Linked DNA regions of Homo sapiens. The protein of the gene in region 4 interacts with the protein of the main gene of each other region in a pairwise test. Each region holds a gene or a part of one and is shown on either strand. Other genes may lie near its edges.

What was found.
Region 1: the proteins of LRP8 (region 4) and GIPC1 interact in a two-hybrid assay, tested with the Homo sapiens proteins (one study listed by BioGRID).
Region 2: the proteins of LRP8 (region 4) and MAP3K5 interact in binary tests that used the Homo sapiens proteins (3 or more experiments, as listed by UniProt).
Region 3: the proteins of LRP8 (region 4) and SCN3A interact in a two-hybrid assay, tested with the Homo sapiens proteins (one study listed by BioGRID).
Region 5: the proteins of LRP8 (region 4) and NOS1AP interact in a two-hybrid assay, tested with the Homo sapiens proteins (one study listed by BioGRID).

What each region holds. Positions count from the first base shown.
Region 1 is NC_000019.10:14,478,783-14,483,058, forward strand, and holds part of GIPC1 (PDZ domain-containing protein GIPC1), read right to left. Parts: intron 4,225-4,276; 5' UTR 4,195-4,224; coding exon 3,907-4,194; intron 1,997-3,906; coding exon 1,811-1,996; intron 1,704-1,810; coding exon 1,523-1,703; intron 743-1,522; coding exon 630-742; intron 1-629. UniProt on the Homo sapiens protein: May be involved in G protein-linked signaling.
Region 2 is NC_000006.12:136,561,402-136,565,677, reverse strand, and holds part of MAP3K5 (mitogen-activated protein kinase kinase kinase 5), read left to right. Parts: intron 1-3,062; coding exon 3,063-3,175; intron 3,176-4,032; coding exon 4,033-4,145; intron 4,146-4,276. UniProt on the Homo sapiens protein: Serine/threonine kinase which acts as an essential component of the MAP kinase signal transduction pathway. Plays an important role in the cascades of cellular responses evoked by changes in the environment.
Region 3 is NC_000002.12:165,158,627-165,162,902, reverse strand, and holds part of SCN3A (sodium channel protein type 3 subunit alpha), read left to right. Parts: intron 1-74; coding exon 75-347; intron 348-531; coding exon 532-595; intron 596-4,276. UniProt on the Homo sapiens protein: Pore-forming subunit of Nav1.3, a voltage-gated sodium (Nav) channel that directly mediates the depolarizing phase of action potentials in excitable membranes.
Region 4 is NC_000001.11:53,321,072-53,325,347, forward strand, and holds part of LRP8 (low-density lipoprotein receptor-related protein 8 isoform 1 precursor), read right to left. Parts: intron 1-4,276. UniProt on the Homo sapiens protein: Cell surface receptor for Reelin (RELN) and apolipoprotein E (apoE)-containing ligands. LRP8 participates in transmitting the extracellular Reelin signal to intracellular signaling processes, by binding to DAB1 on its cytoplasmic tail.
Region 5 is NC_000001.11:162,352,145-162,356,420, reverse strand, and holds part of NOS1AP (carboxyl-terminal PDZ ligand of neuronal nitric oxide synthase protein), read right to left. Parts: intron 1,235-4,276; coding exon 1,068-1,234; intron 1-1,067. UniProt on the Homo sapiens protein: Adapter protein involved in neuronal nitric-oxide (NO) synthesis regulation via its association with nNOS/NOS1. The complex formed with NOS1 and synapsins is necessary for specific NO and synapsin functions at a presynaptic level.

The DNA.
Region 1 (4,276 bases), on a different chromosome or scaffold from region 4:
GTGACAGCGACATCATAACAATGTGAATATACATAGTAATTGGACGGACTGCCATTGTCACCACTTTACATATATTCGTATTTAGACCTCAGGACAACCCTGAGAAGGTGGTATCGGTGTTCAGCTCATCCCCATTTTACTGATGGGCAAACTGCGGCCCATGTGCCCAAGGAAGGTCCCTGGGAGCTGGGAAGTGGCAGAAGTGGACTAGAATCCAGGCTGTCTGCCCAGAGTCCCCTCAGCTAACAGGTAATGCTGCCGGTTATGAAAAGGAAGGGAGGGCTGGGCGCGGTGGCTCATGCCTATAATCCCAGCACTTTGGGAGGCCAAGGAGGCTGGATCACCTGATGTCAGGAGTTCGAGACCAACTCCTGGCCTGGCCAACATGGTGAAACCCCATCTCTACTAAAAATACAAAAATCAGCTGGGCATGGTGGTGGGCACCTGTAATCCCAGCTACTTGGGAGGCTGAGGCAGGAGTATCGCTTGAACCTGGGAGGCAGAGGTTGCAGTGAGCCGAGATTGCACCACTGCACTCCAGCCTGGGTGACAAGAGTGAGACTCTGTCTCAAAAAAAAAAAAAAGAAAGGGAAGGGATGCCGGAGATAGGGTCCGGCTGGAGCACTCACCAGATCCTCCACCGTGGCGGGGCCCCGGGATCGGAGCCGCAGGGTCCCTCGGCCAGTGCCCAGTTGTGGGCCAGAGCCAGGGCGGCCACCCGCTGAACGCTGGCTGATCATGTCTGTGGGAGGCAGGAGAGGAGTGAGTGTGGGGGAAGCTTGGTTTTAGCACGTTCTGGGCAGGAACTTGTCCTTCCTGGCTTTCACCACCACCCCAAACTTCTCCAGGCTTCTGCAAGTTTCTGGGGGCTGGGGCCGGGGTGATCCCAGGAGGGCAGGAATCCTGACTCAGGCCTGGCATGGATGTGGGGCAGAGCAGGGGGAACAGCTGGGGGCCAGGAATAGGAAATGCTGGAGGGGAGACTGGAGGGGCCACTTCTGCTCCCAGGGGCTGGGGGACAGGAAGCAGGTGTACCCCAGCCTGAGTCTCCAGCTGCCTGAGTCCGTCTCCTCTTGGCCAAGGGGGTATGGCTGCTGGGCCACAGACCAGCCCTACCTGCCCAGGGAAGTGATTTAGTCCCCCACCCCCACCTCAGGGGCCTGGGGCCCATTCCTGAGAGTTAGTGAAGCCAGATGGAAAAGTGGGGGGGCTGGCACTGAGCAGTCAAGCCTGGCCTGTTGGGGATAGGGGGCTGGCCAGGGCTGAGGGCGCTTGGCTGGGCTAATGGCCCCTGGAAGCTAGGTGTGAGGGCAACTTCCTCCTCGCCCCCGCCCTTCTCCCAGGCTGGGCCAAGGGCCAGCACCCCGTCTGGGGTCGGGAGGAGCTGCAACCCCTTCCCTTTCTGCAACCCCTTCCCTTTCGGCAGGCCAGGCTTGGGCGCCACCTGCTGGCCGCTCCCGGCACCACCGCCTGCGCCCATGCGAGCAGCGCCACTGGGGAGGTCCAGGGGGCGGCTCCTCACCGAAGGCCTTGCGAGGCTCCGTGAGCTTCAGCGTGAAGGTACGGCCTCGGGGCAGCTCCTTGAGCAGCCGGGCCACCTCGTAGTGCCGGCAGCCCAGCAGGCTCTGCCCGTTAATGGCCTCGATCATGTCGCCCACGCTGATGAGGTGGATGTGGTCGATCACGCTGCCCTCCTTGATGCGCTGCGGGGGCGGGGAGTCATCAGCCCTTGGGGCTCTGCCCTGGTTTCCGGGGTCCCATGGCCCACCCTCACTCCCAGGCCTCCGGGGTGCCCCGTCTCCCCAGGCACCTTGATGAAGGCGTAGCCAGCCCCGTTGTCCGTGATGGTGAGCCCGAGTGCATCCTCCGACTTGAACACCTCCACCTCCTTGCGCTGCCCCTTCACGTGGGCGAAGATGAAGTCCTCCAGCCCGATCTGGCCCCCCAGGAGCTTGTCCATGTCCACTTTGTGGGTGTTCAGGGTGCAGAACATCACCTGCAGGGGTGGGAGACGCTGAAACCTCTTCCCCCTCCCTCCCCCTTTTCTAATCACCACTGGAGGGCGAAGGGAGAGAGCTGGGAGAGGACTAGGGGGATTCCATCCCAGTAACTCATCACCCACTGAGCCTGAGCCAGGGCCACAGCAGGGCCCACATTAGCGTGTCAGCTCTGCTAGGACTAGGATTTAGTTTTCCTTTCTCTTTTTGAGACAGGGTCTTGCTCTGTCACCCAGGCTGGAGTGCAGTGGTGCCATCATAGTCACTGCAGCCACAACCTCCCAGATTCCGGCAATCCTCCCACCTCAGCCTCCCAAGTAGCTGGAACTACAGGTGCTCGCCACCATGCCTGGCTAATTTTTGTATTTTTTGTGGAGATATGGGGTCTCACTATGTTGCACAGGCTGGTCTCCAACTCCTGGGCTCAAGTGATCCTCCTGTCTCAGTCTCCCGAGTAGCTGGGACCACAGACACGTGCCACCACACCCACATAGTTAAAATAATTTTTTTTAGAGATGGGAGCCTCATTATGTTGCCCAGGCTGGCCTGGAACTCCTGAGCTCCAGTGATCCCCCCATCTCAACCTCCCAAGTAGCTGGGACTATAGGTGTGCACCACTGTACCCAGCTAGGATTTCGGTCCTAGCAAAAATTCATTGCTGTGCCAGGTGCGGTGGCTCACGCCTGTAATCCCAGCACTTTGGGAGGCCGAGGTGGGCAGAACACGAGGTCAGGAGATCGAGACCAACCTGGCCAACATGGTGAAATCCTGTCTCTACTAAAAATACAAAAATTAGCTGGGTCTGGTGGCGGGCGCCTGTAATCCCAGCTACTCGGGAGGCTGAGGCAGGAAAATGGTTTGAACCCAGGAGGTGGAGGTTGCAGAGAGCCAAGATCGTGCCACTGCACTCCAGCCTGGTGACAGAGCAAGACTCCATCTCAAAAAAAAAAAAAAAAAAAAAAAAAAAATTCATTGCTGCTTTCAGGGAACGGAGCCTGGCACACAGTGAGTGCTCAGGAAATGCTTGTGGAGGACACAGAAACTCATCCCACTTAGGGAGACCCCTGCGTCTACTTCTTGCTCAAACCCACTATTGCCCTCCTTGACCCCCTCCCATCTATCCCCACAGTGCTTGGCACCAGGCAAGCCTGCCTCCCACAGCGTTGAGTTTCTCCAAGGCATCACGGAGAAGTGCATCTCGTATCTGGCCTCTAGCCTCCACCATCTCATGGGGCACTGGCCTCCCAATGCCTGACAGGAACTCAGCATCCAGCCCTGGCCATCAGCTCCCACAGTCTGTAGAGGTGCAGGCCTCTCAGTGTCTGATGGGAACTCAGCATTTAACTGTGGCCATCAGCTCCCCACAATCTACTGGGGTGCAGGCCTCCCAACGCCTGATGGGAACTCAGCGTCCAGCCCTGGTCGTCAGTTTTGCACAATCGACTGGGATGCAGGCCTCTCAATCCATCCATCCAATCAATCCATCCAGCCCTGGCCTCCCACAGTCCATTGGAGCTCAGGTCTCTCAGTGCCTGTTGGGAACTCAGCATCCACCCCTAGTCTTGCACAATCTACTGGGGGTACACCCCTCCTAATGCCTGATGGGATGTCAGCATGCAGCCCTGGCCATCAGCTCCCACAATCCACTGGGGCACAGGTCTCCCAGTGCCTGATGGGAACTCAGCATCCAGCCCTGGCCTCCAGTTCCCCACAATTCACAGGGGCACAAGCCTCCCAGTGCCTCATGGGGACTCAGCATCCAGCCCAGGCCATTGGCCCCCACCACTGAGTGGGGCCCAGGCTCAGCATCTGCAGCTTCAGCATCTGAGCCCCAGCTCATGAACAGGATGCAGGCCCAGACCTCTGGTCCACCATCAGGGACCCTGGTGCCCGGCTCCCCAGTGGATACCTCGGCAGTTGGCAGGCGGAAGGCCTCGGCGATCTTGCCATACAGCTCCTTGACGTTGGTGAAGCCCTCGATGCGGCCAGTGGGACTGCCATGGGCCAGCTGGGTGTGGAACACGAGGCGGGGCCGCAGGGCTGGGGGAGGGGGGGGCAAGCCCATTTGGGGGCCCCCCGACCCACCTCCGCCCAGAGGCCCTGGCTCCCCCACGCCCAGCCCTCCACGGCCTGGCTCAGCCTCCTCATTTTCCACTAGAGGGGGCGCCTTTTTCCGCCGCCCCAGTCCCAGCGGCATGAGCAGCGAGAAGTGGGGTCACCAGAAGATCTGCAGGACAGGAAGTGGGGCTCAGGGCCTGGGCAGAGGCCTTGGGTGCCCC
Region 2 (4,276 bases), on a different chromosome or scaffold from region 4:
CATACCTACCGCAAAATGAATCTAGAGGAAATGTTAGTGTGTTTTCAGGAAAGGTTGTAGCTCTCATATTAAAAATTGTAAGCTTAGAATATTTAGGATGATCACTGATGAAGGGAAATCAGGTTTATCCTGCTTGGAGGATCACCTGAGCCCAAGAGGTTGAGGCTACAGTGAGCCATGATTGCACCATTGCACTCCAGCCTGGGTGACAGAGCAAGACCCTATCTCAAAAACAAAAACAAAAACCTGTCTCAAGAGGAGCTGCCTGTTTATTTAATTTCCCCATCCTACAGTTCTGGAATTACCCACCAATCCACCTCATCACCCCTGCCCATCCAAGGTTAAAAATTGACCTCATGGCAGATCCTGCCATACTTTTTTGGAACAGAAAGGCAGACAGTTGCCTTGATTTCAAAATATTGCCCTGCTAAATAAACACAAAATAAAAATAAAATTGATGTACTGGATTGTTCTTAAGATAAATACTTCTAAGAGCTGGATTCGGAGCAAATGAGGTGGGCTGTCAATACTCTGCTTCCAGTGTTGAAGTTCTGGTGTTTAAGGTGTTAAAAGAAAGCTTCAGACAAATTAAATTTAATGGAGTTTAATTGAAAAAGAAAAAAATAGTTTGTGAATCAGGTGGCCTCTAGAATCACAGCAGATTCAGAGAGATTCCAGGGATGCCTCGTGGCCAGAACAAATTTATAGAAAATAAAAGTAAAGTGACGTACAGAAATCAGAAGTGTGCAGAAAGAGCTGGATTTGTTATGGGTTGGCGTTCACCTTATTTGAACACTCAGCAGTGTATGAGTGGTTGAAGTATGGCTCCTGGGATTAGCCAAGACTCAGCTATTGTTATAGACGCATACTCCTAAGTTAGGTTTTCAATCTTGTCTACCTGTTAAGTTATAGTTTGTCCACGAGGACTCAAATATGCAAGTACGGAGTCCTTCTCAGGCCATATTTCATTCACTTTAACAAAAGATAAAAAGAAATTACATAGTCTAGACAAACATAGGTTAAACTCTAGAAAACATCACTGTGTTCCTTGAGAAAACAGTAAGAAGATACCATCACTGTCTTATACGTATAAATTAGCAAGTAGGACAAAAATACATACCAGATCAAAAAACTGCCAACTTAAACATTCACACAGAGCTTCCTGCCCATTTCTTTGGATAATATTTGTTTTGAAAGAGATAAGAAGCCTCCCTCCAAGACCCTGTGCTCCCTCTTCTAGCTTTCAGTTCATGCTGCTTCATCCACCTCATTGTGCACCACACTTACCCTGCAGCTGTCTTTGTTAACTTATTTTCCTCCACCCACCTTCTCTGTCTACCTCTTATTGTGTTTTACTTTTGTCCCACCTCTGCTACCTACTCTGCTGTGATCCCTTCTCTCTGAGGATCTCATCTTTATGTCCTGTGGGAATGGGGTCGAGCCTGGGGGTCTGGGAAGGTTTCCTTCCCACTGAGTCCTGGAAAGGCTCTTTTCCAGGGACTGAGGTAGCAAGGAACAGAACATCCCTTATTAAAGACCAGACACTGACTTGGCACTGTACCTATGCTGTCTCATTTAATGCTCACAATAATCTTTTCTGGAAGCTTTAGTTTTCTTTTTTACAAATGATTTGAAAACTGAAGCCTGGAGGCATTAGGTAATTTATCTAAGGTTAACACAGGAAGTGCAGGGTTGAACCAGGACACAAGCCCAGATCTGTCAGTTGCACGATGCTGCCTTCAGATTATGTCAAGTGAAGCAGAAACAAACTCTTGAGTTAAATCTATCAATACTCAGAAAATGAAACAAATAGAGTTTGTTAAGAGCTGTAGTTTATGCAACGATTTATCCTGATAATCTTAATAACGATATATTTTAAATTATTATTTCTGAATCCAACTTACATTAAGATACTTTTCTAAAAAATTAGAGCACCTCTTTTCATAACTTGGAATGTTTTCTTTGAGAAATTCTATTGGAAATGGTGAGTAGGTTACCAGTTGGCTCTCAGTTGCATAGTGAACCTTCTATGGGTAAGAACTTTGGTATGAATATCACAGTTTCTCCTTGTTTCTTTGGAGACTGCATCAGATGCCAACTAGGAACTGAATGTACCAGGAACACAGCTATCCTTTTACCCACTTCACCCCCGCCCCCTTAGAAGGAAGAGGAATAATAGTAACAATCACAATTGTAGCAACAACCGTGAACATTTACTGAGAATTTGTTATATGCCAGATATTCTAGGCGACCTCACCTATGACTGTTTCTCAAATTTTCATAGTTTACAAAAAGTGATTACTTTTCTGATTTGCATTGATTATGAAATTATGCACATTTGCCAACTTTTTTTAATGGGGGTCCATACATGTAAAATATAGGCCTGTTAATATCTGTATCCCATATTTATATCTTTGACATTTATGGTCATAACAAGAAATATCAGGACACATCTCTGAAGATTTTGGCAGACAATCTGTGGTGGAGGTTTTGAATTCTTGTCGGCAAGCACAGTCTTCCAAAGCTTAGCTTCTGGACCTGAGGGTCTGTGAACCTGCAACATCAGTGTCATCTGGGAGCTCATTATAAATACAGTCTCAGAACTCACCCCCGGGGCACTGGACCAGTATCTGTATTTCAATAAAATTAGGGGTGTATGTGCTTATTATAGCTCATGTCTAGAAGGTCATCCTAGGCCTGGCACAGTGGCACATGCACACACCTATAATCCCAGAGCTTTGAGAGGCTGAGGTGGAAAGACCACTGGAGGCCAGGAGTTCAGAGACCAGCTTGGACAACATAGCAAGACTCTGTCTCTACAAAAAAAAAAAAAAAAAAAATTAGCCAGGCATGGTGGTGCATGTCTGTATTCCCAGCTGCTTGGAAAACTGAGATGGGAGGATCGCTTGAGTCCAAGAGTTTAAGGATGCAGTGAGCTATAATTGGGCCACTACACTCAGCCTAGGCAACAGAGAGAGACCTTGTATCTAAAAAAATAAAAATAAAAAAAAGAAGGTCACCCTGTGTCACCTCCTGTCAAACAATATATTTTTCTTCTGCAGATTACTGGAAGAATTGGTTCGGAAAGAGAAAGAATTACAAGCACTCCTTCATCGAGCTATTGAAGAAAAAGACCAAGAAATTAAACACCTGAAGCTTAAGTCCCAACCCATAGGTGAATAGCAGAAAGTTTTATAGTAATACTGTTCAGCCAGGCTGCCACAAAAAGCCAAGAAAGCCAACAGGAAGTTTTATTTGTGGCTAAGTCAGCATTTCTCACTTCTACCATGACTGCAAGCAGGAATTCCTTTAAAAAAAAAAAATCCAGTTTTTAACTGTAGCAAACTCATTTCTTATAAGTGCAGTAAAAATAGATTATTCATAATCATCTTTTCCTGAGATTATGTATTACTGAGGTAAACAGGGCTCTCTGTTTTTAGTCTTTATTTTTAAAGATTTCACAATGAGCTTACTAGAATAAATAATACTATTTTTTGTCATTTTGCATTTATATTCTGTGTATTCTAGCCTTTTTCCTTATAATTTGAAGAGGCTTAAATAGAATAAAGATGTAGTAGTAAAAAGGCATAGCTGGGGAGAATGTTATTTAGCCCATTTAGAGGAAAACAGAATTCATAGTTATTTGTTTAGATATGTGGCTCTTTCATAGTGGAAAAAGAGATTATGATAATTATATAGTTCTCTGCTAATTGTATTCATCTTTATTGCATGAAAAACACAAAGTCTAATTTTGGTGCACAGAGTTTATTCTAAGAAACCATAAAATTGATATGAAAGTGTAACGTAGGAGTGTCATTTCATTATTGCTTTTGCTCCTTATTTACTAGTAAATTCACTTCTCTGAGTTTTATTCATATTATCATCTATACTGCCAATCTCAATTGTTTCTATGAACTGTTCTCTGATAGAGCAAAATCTTTTAAAGTATCAATAAATGTCTGTTGATTGTGAGGGTCTCAGATGACCTCTGTTAGGTGAAATTAAGAATATCTTCCCAAAATTCTGTTCTAGAAATTCCTGAATTGCCTGTATTTCATCTAAATTCTTCTGGCACAAATACTGAAGATTCTGAACTTACCGACTGGCTGAGAGTGAATGGAGCTGATGAAGACACTATAAGCCGGGTAAAGAAAACTGTCTGTGGGACAAGTATTCTTTCACTTCGTTTCATAATGTTGGGTGCCTGCTATGTGACAGGCACAGGGGATACACTGGTGAGCAAATCAGACCCAGCCCTGCCCTCCTGAGGCTTACA
Region 3 (4,276 bases), on a different chromosome or scaffold from region 4:
GAATGTGTGTGACTATTAAGAAATCATGATTTCTGGCACTCTTCCTCAGGTAACCTATAGTTCTCTCTCTGCAGGTTTAAAGACCATTGTGGGGGCCCTGATCCAGTCGGTAAAGAAGCTTTCTGATGTGATGATCCTGACTGTGTTCTGTCTGAGCGTGTTTGCTCTCATTGGGCTGCAGCTGTTCATGGGCAATCTGAGGAATAAATGTTTGCAGTGGCCCCCAAGCGATTCTGCTTTTGAAACCAACACCACTTCCTACTTTAATGGCACAATGGATTCAAATGGGACATTTGTTAATGTAACAATGAGCACATTTAACTGGAAGGATTACATTGGAGATGACAGTAAGAAGTATTACATTATGTTAACCTTAGTGTTGCTGAATGAATTTTCAACTATAAATAGTTGAGACTGTGGGTGTACAGCCACCTTTGTAAATAACTGAAATAGTCCAACTCTGATTTATTACTAATACTAATGTGAATAGGATTAATATGAAATAAAATGGGTTTTTTTTTGTATTAACAGGTCACTTTTATGTTTTGGATGGGCAAAAAGACCCTTTACTCTGTGGAAATGGCTCAGATGCAGGGTAAGAAACATAATATATTTTTTAAGATATAGAACTCTTTGCGAAAAAAAAAAGTAGGTAGGAAAACAACTACATGGTTATATGTGTAGCCTTACCATGTATGCAATAAAGAGCAGTGCTGCTCCCCTAGGAAGTGCCTTGTCTGCCTTACCGGATTGCCACTGGTCCTAAACTCACAGCAATTAAAAATTATCCCTTTGTGAAGACCTTTCCCCAAAATTTCACAGTTAAGATGTTCTTAAATTGATGCTCCAATGTGTGAAGGCCCAGAGTCTGTCTTTGCTGTACATCTATCAGAGCTGTTAGGAAACACAGGAACACAAGATGGGCCCCTTTTTATTGGTGTACATATGTATCAATGGGATGAGTTTTGTCGTGACTGGAAAAGACCCAGACTATAATGTGGTCTTCAGGGTGGAAGCACACTTGGGGAAGTGCTTTGAAATATTTAAGTATTCTTGAAGGAGCATGTATTTCTGTATACAAAGAAGCCAAGGGTGCATGTGTGCCAAAGGCATGTCCAAGTATCAGTTGACATAATGAATAGTTCTTTTAGGCCACACGTTACAACAAAAGATGCCATAATATCTTAGTCATGCTGTTATTCTCTAACCCTTAAATATTTTCCTAAGAGTATTGTAAGTTAATTTTAAATCAAAATAGGGAATTTTTTAAGAGCTGAGAGATAGCAATAGTAAGTGACTCTTAGGACACGGAACTTAAATATATTTTGAGTCATCCTTTAAAAAGGGAAACTGGTGTAGCCATAAAAATCTAAGAGAGTTAATGAAAATGTATACTAGTCATATAAATAGAGCTTTGGGGAATTTTTTTTCCTGACAGTTTTCCTAGCCTTATTATGAATGTAGGGGGTAAGAGCATAGGTTGTAGAGTTCATGTATACCAGGGTTCAAATCCTAACTTCACCACTTGTAAGCTCTTTGACCTTGGAAAAGTGTCCTAAGCTCTCTGTACCTTAGTTTACTCATCGTTAAAATGGAGAGAGTAATATTCTGTCCCTTTAATAGTTGTGATGATTAATGATTTAATACACATAAAGTATTTGAACTATCACATGGACAATTGTAAGAATTTATTGTATGTACCAGCCTAAGCAACAAAGCAAGACCCTACCTCTACAAAACAAAAAAAAAAAAAAAAAAAAAAAAAGAAAGAAAGAAAAAAAAGAAAAGAAAAGAAGAAGAAAAAAAGAAAAACTTAGCCAGGCATTGTGATGCACACGTGTAGTCCTAACTTCTCAGGGGGCTAAAGTAGAAGGATTGCTTGAGCCTAGGAATTCCAAGCCACAGTGAGCTATGATCATGCCACTGCACTCCAGCCTAGGTGATAGGCTGTCTCTGAAAAATGGCTGGGAGCGGTGGCTCACACCTGTAATCCCAGCACTTTGGGAAGCAGAGGCAGGGGGATTACTTGAGGCCAGGAGATCTAGACCAGCCTGGCCAACATGGCGAAACCTTGTCTCTACTACAAAATGCAAAAATTAGCTGGGTGTGGTGGGGCACACCTGTATCTCAGCTACTCTGGAGGCTGAGGCACAATAATCTCTTAAACGTGAAAGATGGAGGTAGCAGTGAGCTGAGATGGCACCACTACACTCCAGCCTGGATGACAAAGCGAGACCCTGTCCCCCCAAAAAATTTTTTTAATAAATTTAAAAAAAAAGCACACTCTAAAAAAAGAAAAGAATTTATTGCCTATTAACTATTATTTATTATGATGATGATTAACATAAAAGCCCAGATAAAATTTTGGATAAATTTGGTTAATACATACTTTATTCCTATTAAACCATAATAATCTATTCCCCTTAATGAATTCCTATTATGGCTTAAGTAATTTACATCAACAGTCCCCAGCCTTTTTGGCACCAGGGACTGTTTTGTGGAAGACAATTTTTCCACCGACCAAGGGTGGTGGTGGGAAATGATTTCAGGATGATTCAAGCACGTTACATTTATTGTGTACATTATTTATATTATTAGCATACTGTAATATATAATGAAATAATTGTACAAGTCACCATAATGTAGAATCAGTGGGAGCCTGATCTCAAATGATTCACCTGCCTCGGCCTCCCAAAGTGCTGGGGATTACAGGCATGAGCCACTGCGCCTGGCCATTGGTGATGAGATTTTTGTTTTTGTTTTTGTTTTTTTTTGAGACGGAGTTTAGCTCTGTCGCCCAGGCTGGAGTGCAGTGGCGCGATCTCGGCTCACTGCAAGTTCCGCCTCCCGGGTTCAAGCTATTCTCCTGCCTCAGCCTCCCGAGTAGCTGGGACCACAGGCGCCCGCCACCACGCCCGGCTAATTTTGTATTCTTAATAGATACCAGGTTTCACCATGTTAGCCAGGATGGTCTCAATCTCCTGACCTCGTGATCCGCCCGCCTCGGCCTCCCAAAGTGCTGGGATTACAGGAGTGAGCCAGGTGATGAGTTTTAAATACAAAACCATTTTGTATTTAAGCGGCACATTCCATTAAAGAAATAAATGATTTGTATTTTATTAAAATTAAAAGCTGCTGTTTTACAAAGATATTCTTAAGAGAATGAAAAGACAAACCAGCAACTGGAAGACAATATTTGCAAAGCACATATCTGATTTAAAAAAAAAAAAAAAAAGACTGGGGCTAGGTGAAGTAGCTCATTCCTGTAATCCAGCACTTTGGGAAGCTGAGAGGGGAAGATCATTTGAGCCCAAGAGTTTGAGACTGGCCTGGGCAGCATAGGGAGACACTGTTTCTCCAAAAAATAAAAATAAAAAAATTAGCCAGGCATGGTGTAGTGTATCTGTGGTACCAGCTACTCAGGAGGCTGAGGCAGAAGGATTACTTGAGCCTGGGAGGTCGAGGCTGCAGTGAGCCATGATCAGACCACTGCACTATAGCCTGGGCAACAGAATTATACCCTGTCTCAAAAGAAAACAAAACAAAACAAAACAACAAACCAGTGTCCAGAATATCTAAAGAACTCTTAAAACTCAACAATAAGAAAACAAATGACCCAATTTAAAACTGGCAAAAGATCTGAACAGATACCCCACACGAGTATATAGTACAGGTGGTTATTAAGGAGGTAAAAAGGCACTCGACATCATTTGTCATTAGGGAATTGCAAACTAAAACAACAAGGAGTTACCACTGCACATCTGTTAGAATGACTGAAAAATGTATCTGGCAATACCAACTTCTGATGAGGATGCAGAATAACAGGAACTCTTGCTTATTGCTGGTGGGAATGCAAAACTAGACAACCGCCTTGGAAGACAGTTTGGCGGTTTCTTACAAAATAAACATAGTCTTACCATATGATCCAACAACTGCACTTCTAGGTATTTAGCTGATCAATTTGAAAACTTATGTCTTCACAAAAAACCTGCATGTGAATATTTATAGCAGCTGTATTCATAATGACCCCAAACTGGAAGTAACCAAGATGCCCTTCAATGACCCCAAACTGGAAGCAACCAAGATGTCCTTCAATAGTTGTATAGATAAATAAATTGTTATGCCCATACAATAAAATATTACTGAGTGATTAAAAAGAAATGAGCTATCAAGATACAAACAAATATTAATGAATATTAAATGCACATTTCTAAGTGAGAAAAAGCCAACCTCAAAAAGCTACATACTGTATGATTTCAATTACCTGACATTCTAG
Region 4 (4,276 bases):
CATGGGATATAGGCAGCCAATAGCTGTTATTAGCTACCCCTTGAGGAAACGACTTTGGAATTCCTACTGCCCAGCACAAGGCTGGCGGAGTGCACAATGTTGAGAAGGATCTGCAACTGCGGGAAGAAAAAGGACACGTTGTGGGAGCTCAGGGCCTGAGGGGCTGGAGGACAGGGGTCTAGAAAGGCATCTCTGGAGGAAGTGGCATCCCTGCCAGGCCTTCAGAGCCTGGGTGATCTGGATGTGTGGGCATTTGGGGGGCAGGTGCTACCAACGTTACTTAGGCCTGGGGCTGCAAGGCCTGGCTCCACAACCCTAAGGACACAACCCCACACCCTCCCACAGACCCCAGTGCTGGCCCCCTGGGACAGCATGGGCCTGGGAGTAGACCACTAACCTGGTGCTGGGAGAGCATGCATGCATTTACTTCCTTCAAGGGCGTGCCTGTTCCATCCGCCCTCTGGGCTCTCGCTCCTCACTGCCCCCTGGGGGTCTCTCTCTCTCTGGCTTCACCTGCTACCAGCATTTCCCCAAGGAGGAAAGTTGTCAAGTCGGCCACCAGCAGACAACTGGGGAGGAAGAAGCCAACCATCCCTGAGGCCCAAGGGACTCACACCGGGGAATGCTGACCTGGGAGGGCCCAAGGGAAAGTCTTCAGCAAACACTCCCAAGGCCTGCTAGGGCCTGCTGGGCAGTGCCATGGGGGATGCAGGCCCTCCTCTCCTCCCCAGGCACAGCCAAGAGGAAAGGAGCAGACAGGACAGAAGCCAGCCTCTAGGACCAGCACACAGCCAGAGGGAAGCCATCCGCTGCCCCTCCTAGGGCCCTAGGCCTGTTTGACTCATTTCTTCCCCCAGCTCCTTTCCAAGCAGCTTTCTGTCACCTCTACGGTGGCTGGGCAACTCCCTGGCTGAGGCGAGCACCAGCTGCAGGAACCTCGACATCTGGCTAAGCAGACAGGAGCAGGGGAAGCAAGGGGTCCGGGTTGGCCTGCAAAGACCAGACGTCAGGTACCTAGAGACCTCAGTGAAACCCCTCCCACCAAGAACAACCTCACCCACTGCCATTCACTGAACACCTCCTGCTTACCAGGCATGTGACCTCATTTAATCCTCACATTTAATCTCCGAAAAGGAGGGCCTAGTATCATCCTCACAACCATTCATCCAGGAGGCGACAGCTGGGATGTAAAAACCAGGTGTGTCTGAGTTGTGACTTTGACATGGGTCTCTAAGTAACTCAAATCCTGTATCTCAGCCTGGAGGCAATGGGGTGTCAGGGAAGGCTTCCTAGAGGAGGTGACACCTGCACCGGATCTCTTAGGATGATAAAATGAATCCAGCCAGTGAGGGAGCAGGGTGTCCGGCAGGAGGAATAGCACACACAAAGGCCTGGAGGTGAGAAGCAGCAGGAGGGTGAGAGTGTGGCAGAAGCTAATTTGGTGTCACAGGCTCACAGGAAGAGGCGGGAAGAGGTTGCAGGGAAGTGGGTAACAGGAGCAGGTCACAGAGGGCCAAATACAGAGGAGTCTACACTGACTTTATTCTCTGGATAGTTGGGAGCCCCAGGAGGACTCTGGATGGTGGAGTTGCCCGGTCAGGTGAAGACGGGGAGGTTCAGAAAGGAGCCACACTGTCGTCAGATGGCTCCATCCACGAAGGAGATGAGGCTGGGTCCAGTGTCAGGAGCACACGTCCAGGCCGCACACTGAGGGCCAGATGCGGGCTACAGCACAGGCAGGGAGCTGTGGCCGAGCTTTAATTATTTATGAGGCTGTTTCCCAGCAAGACTCAGCACTCCTGCAGCCTGGCCTTGCCCAGCTAATGAACTCTCAGCCATGGGAGACCTCCCTGTGGCCACTCTTTATTAAACCTGGGATGGAGGGGTGATGGGTGCTGGGATAACAAAAGAGTCCAAAGAAGCCTGAACAAAGTCGAGGTCAGTGAGCACAAAACTGGTCCACCTGTCTACCCAGCCTTTCCGCGAGAAGCACAGAACTTCCTAGAGGAGGAAGCGAGGTGGAGTAGCCTTAAGATGTCATCTCAAGACAGGGAAATGAAGGCCTGGGAAGGACCTACCTAAGTCACCAGCCAGTACTTGAGACAGTACAAGTTCCATAGCTGGTCACCCGCATTCACACCCCAGCAGTTCTACACCCTTGGGCCAGTTACGTAACCCGTCTGTGCCTCGATGAGATAGGACTATTTCAGGTACTTCATAGTGTTGCCCCATTTTATAGAATAGAGGAACGAGGGGCGATGTGTGGACAATCTCAGCACGATGCCCGGTCCACAGCAAGTGCCCAGACAGCGTTCATCGGCGCTATGGTTACTGTTGTGACTCTGGGAGTAAAGGCCAGGCCAGAGACCGGAATCTCTGCCTCTGCCCCCAGACACTAGGGAGCAACAGGAAACTGAGGCCCAGGGGCCAGCTGGCCTACGTGACCCAGGCCCACAGCCAGGAATCCCACCCGACTTCCCCTGGCTGGGCTTCCTTGGGCCTGGCTCTCTAGCTTCCAGCTCCTTCCTCCACTTTGAAGGTTCTTTGAGCTGAGAACTAAAGCCCCAGGAGCTTTTCCCTCTTCCATCCCGCAAGCTCCATCTGTGTCTCCAAAGAGCCAAGTCCCAGCCACTGTGGATGAGGCTCGGGACTTAGAAGGCCTCAGTTTGAGTTCCAGCTCCAACCCTGAGGAGCTCTGTGACTTTGGGGGAGTCACTTCACCTCTCCAAGCCTATGTCCTCTATAATATAGGAACAATACCACCTGTTTTTAAATGGTAAACTCTGGGGGAATGCTATTAGTTACCATCTTTCAGGCCTAGTTCAGCAGTCTCCTCCTCCAGGAAGCCTTTCTTGGCTTCCTTAAAAGTTCCCTCCTTCCAGCCTCTTGGTATTCAGGGGCTGCATTCTGGCCCCTTTGGGAACTTGGACTCATTTTGCCTCACGCAGACTCTATCTACAAATTCCAACCCCCATTTTGCAGGCCCAGAGATGTACAAAGGTGGGGCAGCTCAAGCCCTCTTGCAGGGTGGTGTGCCAAAGAGGGTGGTCAGGGGTAAGGCACGGAGACTGCTCAGGGAGGAGCAGATTTTGTTATCCCAGCACCTATCACCCCTCCATCCCAGGTTTAATAAAGAGCTCCTCAGGGACGAGCCAACAGCTCTCTCTCCTGCAGGGAGAACAGTTCAAAGAAATTCAGTCTGGGCAGGTGGCCTAGAATGCGGGAAGGGCTGAGGAAAGAACATTTTCCAGCACCTGGCCCCAACACAGCCACGTAAGCCCCACTCCGTTTCTTCAGTTTCCCTTTATGGCTACCAGGAGTCCGTTTCTAAAGGCCGTGGAGGTGGGAACACTCATCCATCCGTTCCCTTCTTGCCAGCCCTGTGTGTCTATGTGCACAGCCAGCGTTGGAGGGACAGCTGCCCCTGTTTGGCAGATGAGGAAACAAGCTCAGAAAAGCCAAGCCATGTGTGATTACTACTTGGTACTATCAGCAGCGCCGCCACCCTTTCCACTCCAAGCTTGACGTCATTCACTTTTGTTTAATAACTCCCTGCCTATGACTCTACCCCATGCATCTCAGAGCCATGCAGGAGCCCAGCTTGGCCATTGGAGCTCTCTTGGCCCACCTGAGCGTCACTCAGCACCCAGCTACTTTACTCCTCCATCTCGTCCAAAGCCTCACATGGAGCTGAAACGCACCAGGCCTAACATTTAAAGCCCGTCTTTCCAGCTCCTAGATCACACTCCTGGTGCTTTCCGCACCACACTCCCCACCTCAGCAGACAGTGCCCTGAACTCGAGGCAGGCAGAGATCCTGACCAAGTTCTGTCATCCTGAGCTGTGTGACCTTGCATAAGTCACTCAACTTCTCTGAGGAGGCATCCTTATCTAGAAAGTAGAATGACAAGAAAATTTCTGCTTTTCACAGCCATCCTCACAAGGACAGTTGTTATAAAGAGCCAGGGAGATAAGGCATAACCAGCCCAGACACGCAGTTTCTATTCCTTGCCTCGTCCTCAGTACTCCCACTCTAAGGAGACCACAGAACAACTCCCAGTGAGGAAACTCACTGCAATATTTTACCAAGGCACAGCCATTTTCATAACCTCAACAGCACTGGGAAATGGTCCAGGGTCATGATTAGACTAAGAACTCTAGAGTTAGATGCTTAAGTTCAGGCTCCTACTTAACAACTCAGTAGCTGCTAAGCAGGTAACTTCACAGTTCAGTGCCTCAGTTTTTGTTGGTTTGTTTGTTTTGTTTTTTAATCTCTA
Region 5 (4,276 bases), about 110 Mb from region 4:
CTCTGGTGAGAACCATCGGCAAAGAAGTTTGGATCCTAAAATATATAATGATCTGGAGAGATCCTCTTAGATGAAAGAAGTTCCTGTGTCCTTCCCTCCTTTCCTTCTGTCTCCCTCTCCTGTGGACATTTTTACCAAGATGGCTTCTACGATTCATAGAATTCCATGGCAGGGAAAGACATTTTGTTTCTGGCAGTTCTGCTGTGGGGACTTCTTCAGACATACACAAGGAAGGCCCCCAGTGACACAGGGCTGTTTCCACTTGTAGAGGATAAACTGGTTCCAAAGGAAACGTCAGGCAGCTAGTTTAGAACTGAACTGCCCTCCAAACCTCCATGTGAGATAAGATATGAATGTTAAAGAGAGAGAGGTGCCCTGATATAAACCGCCTGGGAATCTAAGGGTAGAGCTATTGGTCAGTAATTTTGCTTCTGGGTTTAAAACATTTTTAATTAGCTTTGGCTTCAGGTTGGAATTTGATCTCAAGTTCTTAGTTTCTTAATTGGATCACATTAGGAACCCCCAGATGCCACAGTCATCTCACCTATATGATGTTAGGTTAGAGCTGATGAAGACTAAGGTGGTCTCTCAGTTTCTGACATCCAGTGGGCCAACTTCCAGACTCCAAAGTGCTATCCACAGGAATTACCAACGGTATACCACCGCTACTGCAGGCAGAGCGGGCCCAAACTGACTTTGCTCTACTAGCTAAGTCACAGGGGAGTCTGTGTGTGTGTGTGCCAGAGTGAGCCTTGCAAAATACTGTGCAAAGATGAGATGCTGTTAAGGGAAGAGGGTGCCAGGGAGTAGGAGACCAAATATTGGTGGGATTTGGGGAGGGCGATGTGTGTCAGGAATCAGCTCCACAGCATCCTGGCCTGCAGCAGCATCTAGTGTTCAGACCCTCTGGAAGTCAGACCTTCTGAAAGGCAATGAAGTGCGCTCTGGCACCGCCACTGTGCCATGGAGTGCCTCACTCGGAAGCTGAGCTGGCAGGGGCTAGGAAGTGACTGATGACCTGAGGGCACACGTGTGCAGATCACACAGATGGGCCATCTCTTGCCTACCTTGGAGCCTGTGTGAGAGCCTCCTTCCTTCCCTACAGCATCTAGATCAGTCACACCTCGGCTGAATTCCAGGACATCATTCCCTGGAAGTGGGACCTCCACCGCATCGATGTCAGTCTCCTCTGCAGTGGCCGTGGAGGCCCTCTCGGCTCCAGTGAGCTGGCGGCCTGCAGGAACAACAGGGGAGGGAGGGAAGAGAATGAAAACACCGAGAACAAAGTCCTCCTTTCCTAATACTTTAGCTTTCAGGCATGTTGAGCCTAGGGATGCCACTGGCTTTGTAACATTTTCACACATCTTTTCACTCAAGTACGTTAAAGTGCATTTCCAGCCCAGTAAGATGTTCTCATCTTAGTATCTTTTCAAAGTCCAGAAAAAAAGGCAATACTTCCTCAAGCCTGGATGTAAAAGTTTTGCCAGGTTCACAGGAATATATTGACAAGGTACACTGGAAGAAGGGGATGCTGATCATCTCCATGTCATCGCAGCTCAGGAACGGAAGCAGTCAAGGGAAAGGGCCCTGGCCCGGGGGTCCAGAAATGAGGAGGTTGGGCCTCCAATAAACTGCTGGACAAGAAGCAAATCCCCTCACTCTCTGGGCCATGTTTCTTTAACTACAGAATTAGAAGCTCAGTTAGATGGACAGGTAGGGTTCCATGACTGAGGAATAAGGCAGGGAGATGTGAGGCTGCATTTTAACACAGTATCAATCTCCCAGCCCTCAGAGCCTGATCCTCTCACCAACAGCAGAAGCCAGGAAGACGCCTGCAGGAAGTGGCACGGGGAGGAGGAGAGAGATGGGGTGGCTGCTTTTCCATGCTTCCTTATCTAATTTTTCTACTTCCCACATTTCTTCCTTTCCACTGAAGACAATGGCCATGTCTTTACTTAATATTTAACCACAGGCACAGCATACTGCTTAATACCAATGTATGAAAGCCCTGCTATTTCCTACTTATCTTCCTTCCTTGATCCTATTTCTGGGATTCTGTAAAAACATCTGACAACTCCTGGGCATTTCATAGGAAATATTTTCATTTTCTATATTTGCAATTAGGTTAATTACTGCCGTCTTTAAATAAGATTTCTCATGAGTTTTCAGAGACCACGCACCAATTATAAAATGGAACAGGTGGATGTAAAGCAGGAGACACAGAGCTGATGCCCCAGTGCTGAAGCTAGCCCAGGCAACCAGGCCTTGGCCATTTGAGTGCTTGCCTTGTAGAACAAATTGTTCTAAGAAGTTTTCCTATGCAAACCTACACAAGTCATCAAGGGAAACAAGCCTGGCATTTAGAAAGTAAACAGTGGGCTTGGTTTTCTTCCTGGCTACTCCAGGAGCTGAGGAGACAGTCCTGTGGAGGGCTGCAAAGGCGTTTAACAGAAAAGATGGTTCTGACTGCAGCTAGTGGGGGCAGGGAAGGGGAAGCTCTTCTGCCCCTTGGTCAGCCAGTAGGCGGGGAGCACAGGGAGCAGCCTGCTTTCTACCACAGCCTGCACCTGGAAGTGACCGTCTTGATGGCTGGGTGCTTAGCCTGAGAGATGGAGGGTCGGTAGGTGGGTGGTGCTGGGAACTAAGCGTTTGGTTCTCCATGCCTGTACAGGAAAAAGCAGGGTGAAATTTCTATCAGTGATCAGGAGAAGCTGGGCTACTGCAGTGTTCTGTGCACTTAGCACATGATATTGGATGTGCCTGGCCATCAGTCTTCCCTTACAGACTTGAGGCCAGGCTGTGTCTCATTCATGTTTCCTAAAAATGTTTCTCTGGCACAGAGAAAGTGTTCCATAAATACTGACAAAGTAAGTAATGTAGTGACAGGGTAGCAAAACAGGAGAACAGGCTGCAGGAGAAGGCTGCTTATCTACTTCCCATCCCTGGAGATCCTAATAACAAGAACTAAGAAGCCCCAGACACAGAGGGTTTGGACAGGGCCTCGCCAGAAGCCCAGGTGGAATCAGAAAATTTGTCAGGTTTGGCCGGGCGCGGGGGCAGGGGCAGAGAGGCACAGAGGCAGGAAGTCCACGGCATGTCAGGCAATGCAAGTGGTCCCGTAGGGAGGGACCTGACCAGGACGAGTCAGCATTTTATCTTGAGGGACTGAAAGCAAGTAATACCAAAACATTTTCATCCTTCAAAATTTCACTCTAGATATAGTATGGAGGATAGATCCAGCAGCAATGAGAGAAAGTGATACTCTAGGTGGAAAATATGAGGGCTTGAGTGAAGACAATGGCAATAACATGGAGAAGAGATGGATTCGAAGGATCGTCAGGGGGCAGAAAGCACAGGGTTTGCTTGTCTGTGGTGGGGGCGGGGGTGGGGATATGTGCAGGATGAGTCTTAAAATATCTGATTCAGGTGACTGAATGGAGAATGGCATCCTATAGGAAAAATCCAGGAGAAGCAGGATTGCAGGTAAGAAGATGAGTTCAGTTTTAAACCTGTTGACATTGTAAGAGTCTGTGTAACAGTCAAGTAGGGATACCTATTAGGCTGTTGGGTATGTTATGGACTGAATGTTGGTGTTCATATGTCGAAGCCTTAGCTCCCAATGTAATAGCACTTGGAGATGAGCTTTTGGGAGGTAATTAGATCATGAGAATGCAGTCCTCATGATGGGATTCATGCCCTTATAAGAAGCGATGTAGGAGATCCCTCTCTTTCCACCCTGTGAGGACACAGCAAAAAGGCAGCTGTTTGCGAACCAGAAGAGAGTTCTCACCAGGAACCAAATTGGCTGGCACCTTAATCTTGGACTTCTCAGCCTCCAAAACTGTCAGAAATAAATGTTGTTTAAGCCATCCAATCTACTGCATTTTATTATGGCAGGCTGTGTAGATTACTATAGTGCATGAATGGAAAGTTCAGGAAAAAGGCCTGGCCTAAAGATAAACTTTAGTTGAAATCATGGAATGTCAGAAAAAAAAAAAAATACCAGGGGCAAGTCCAGGAGAAATTCCAACACTTAAGGGGTAGGTAGAAGAGGAGCCTGCAGGCCAGGCGCGGTGGCTCACGCCTATAATTCCAGCACTTTGGGAGGCCGGGGTGGGTGGGTCACCTGAGCTCAGGAGTTTGGGACAAGCCTGGCCAACATGGTGAAACCCCATCTCTACTAAAATACAAAAATTAGCTGGGCATGGTGGTACATGCCTGTAATCCCAGCTGCTTGGGAGGCTGAAACAGGAGAATTGCGTGAACCCAGGAGGCG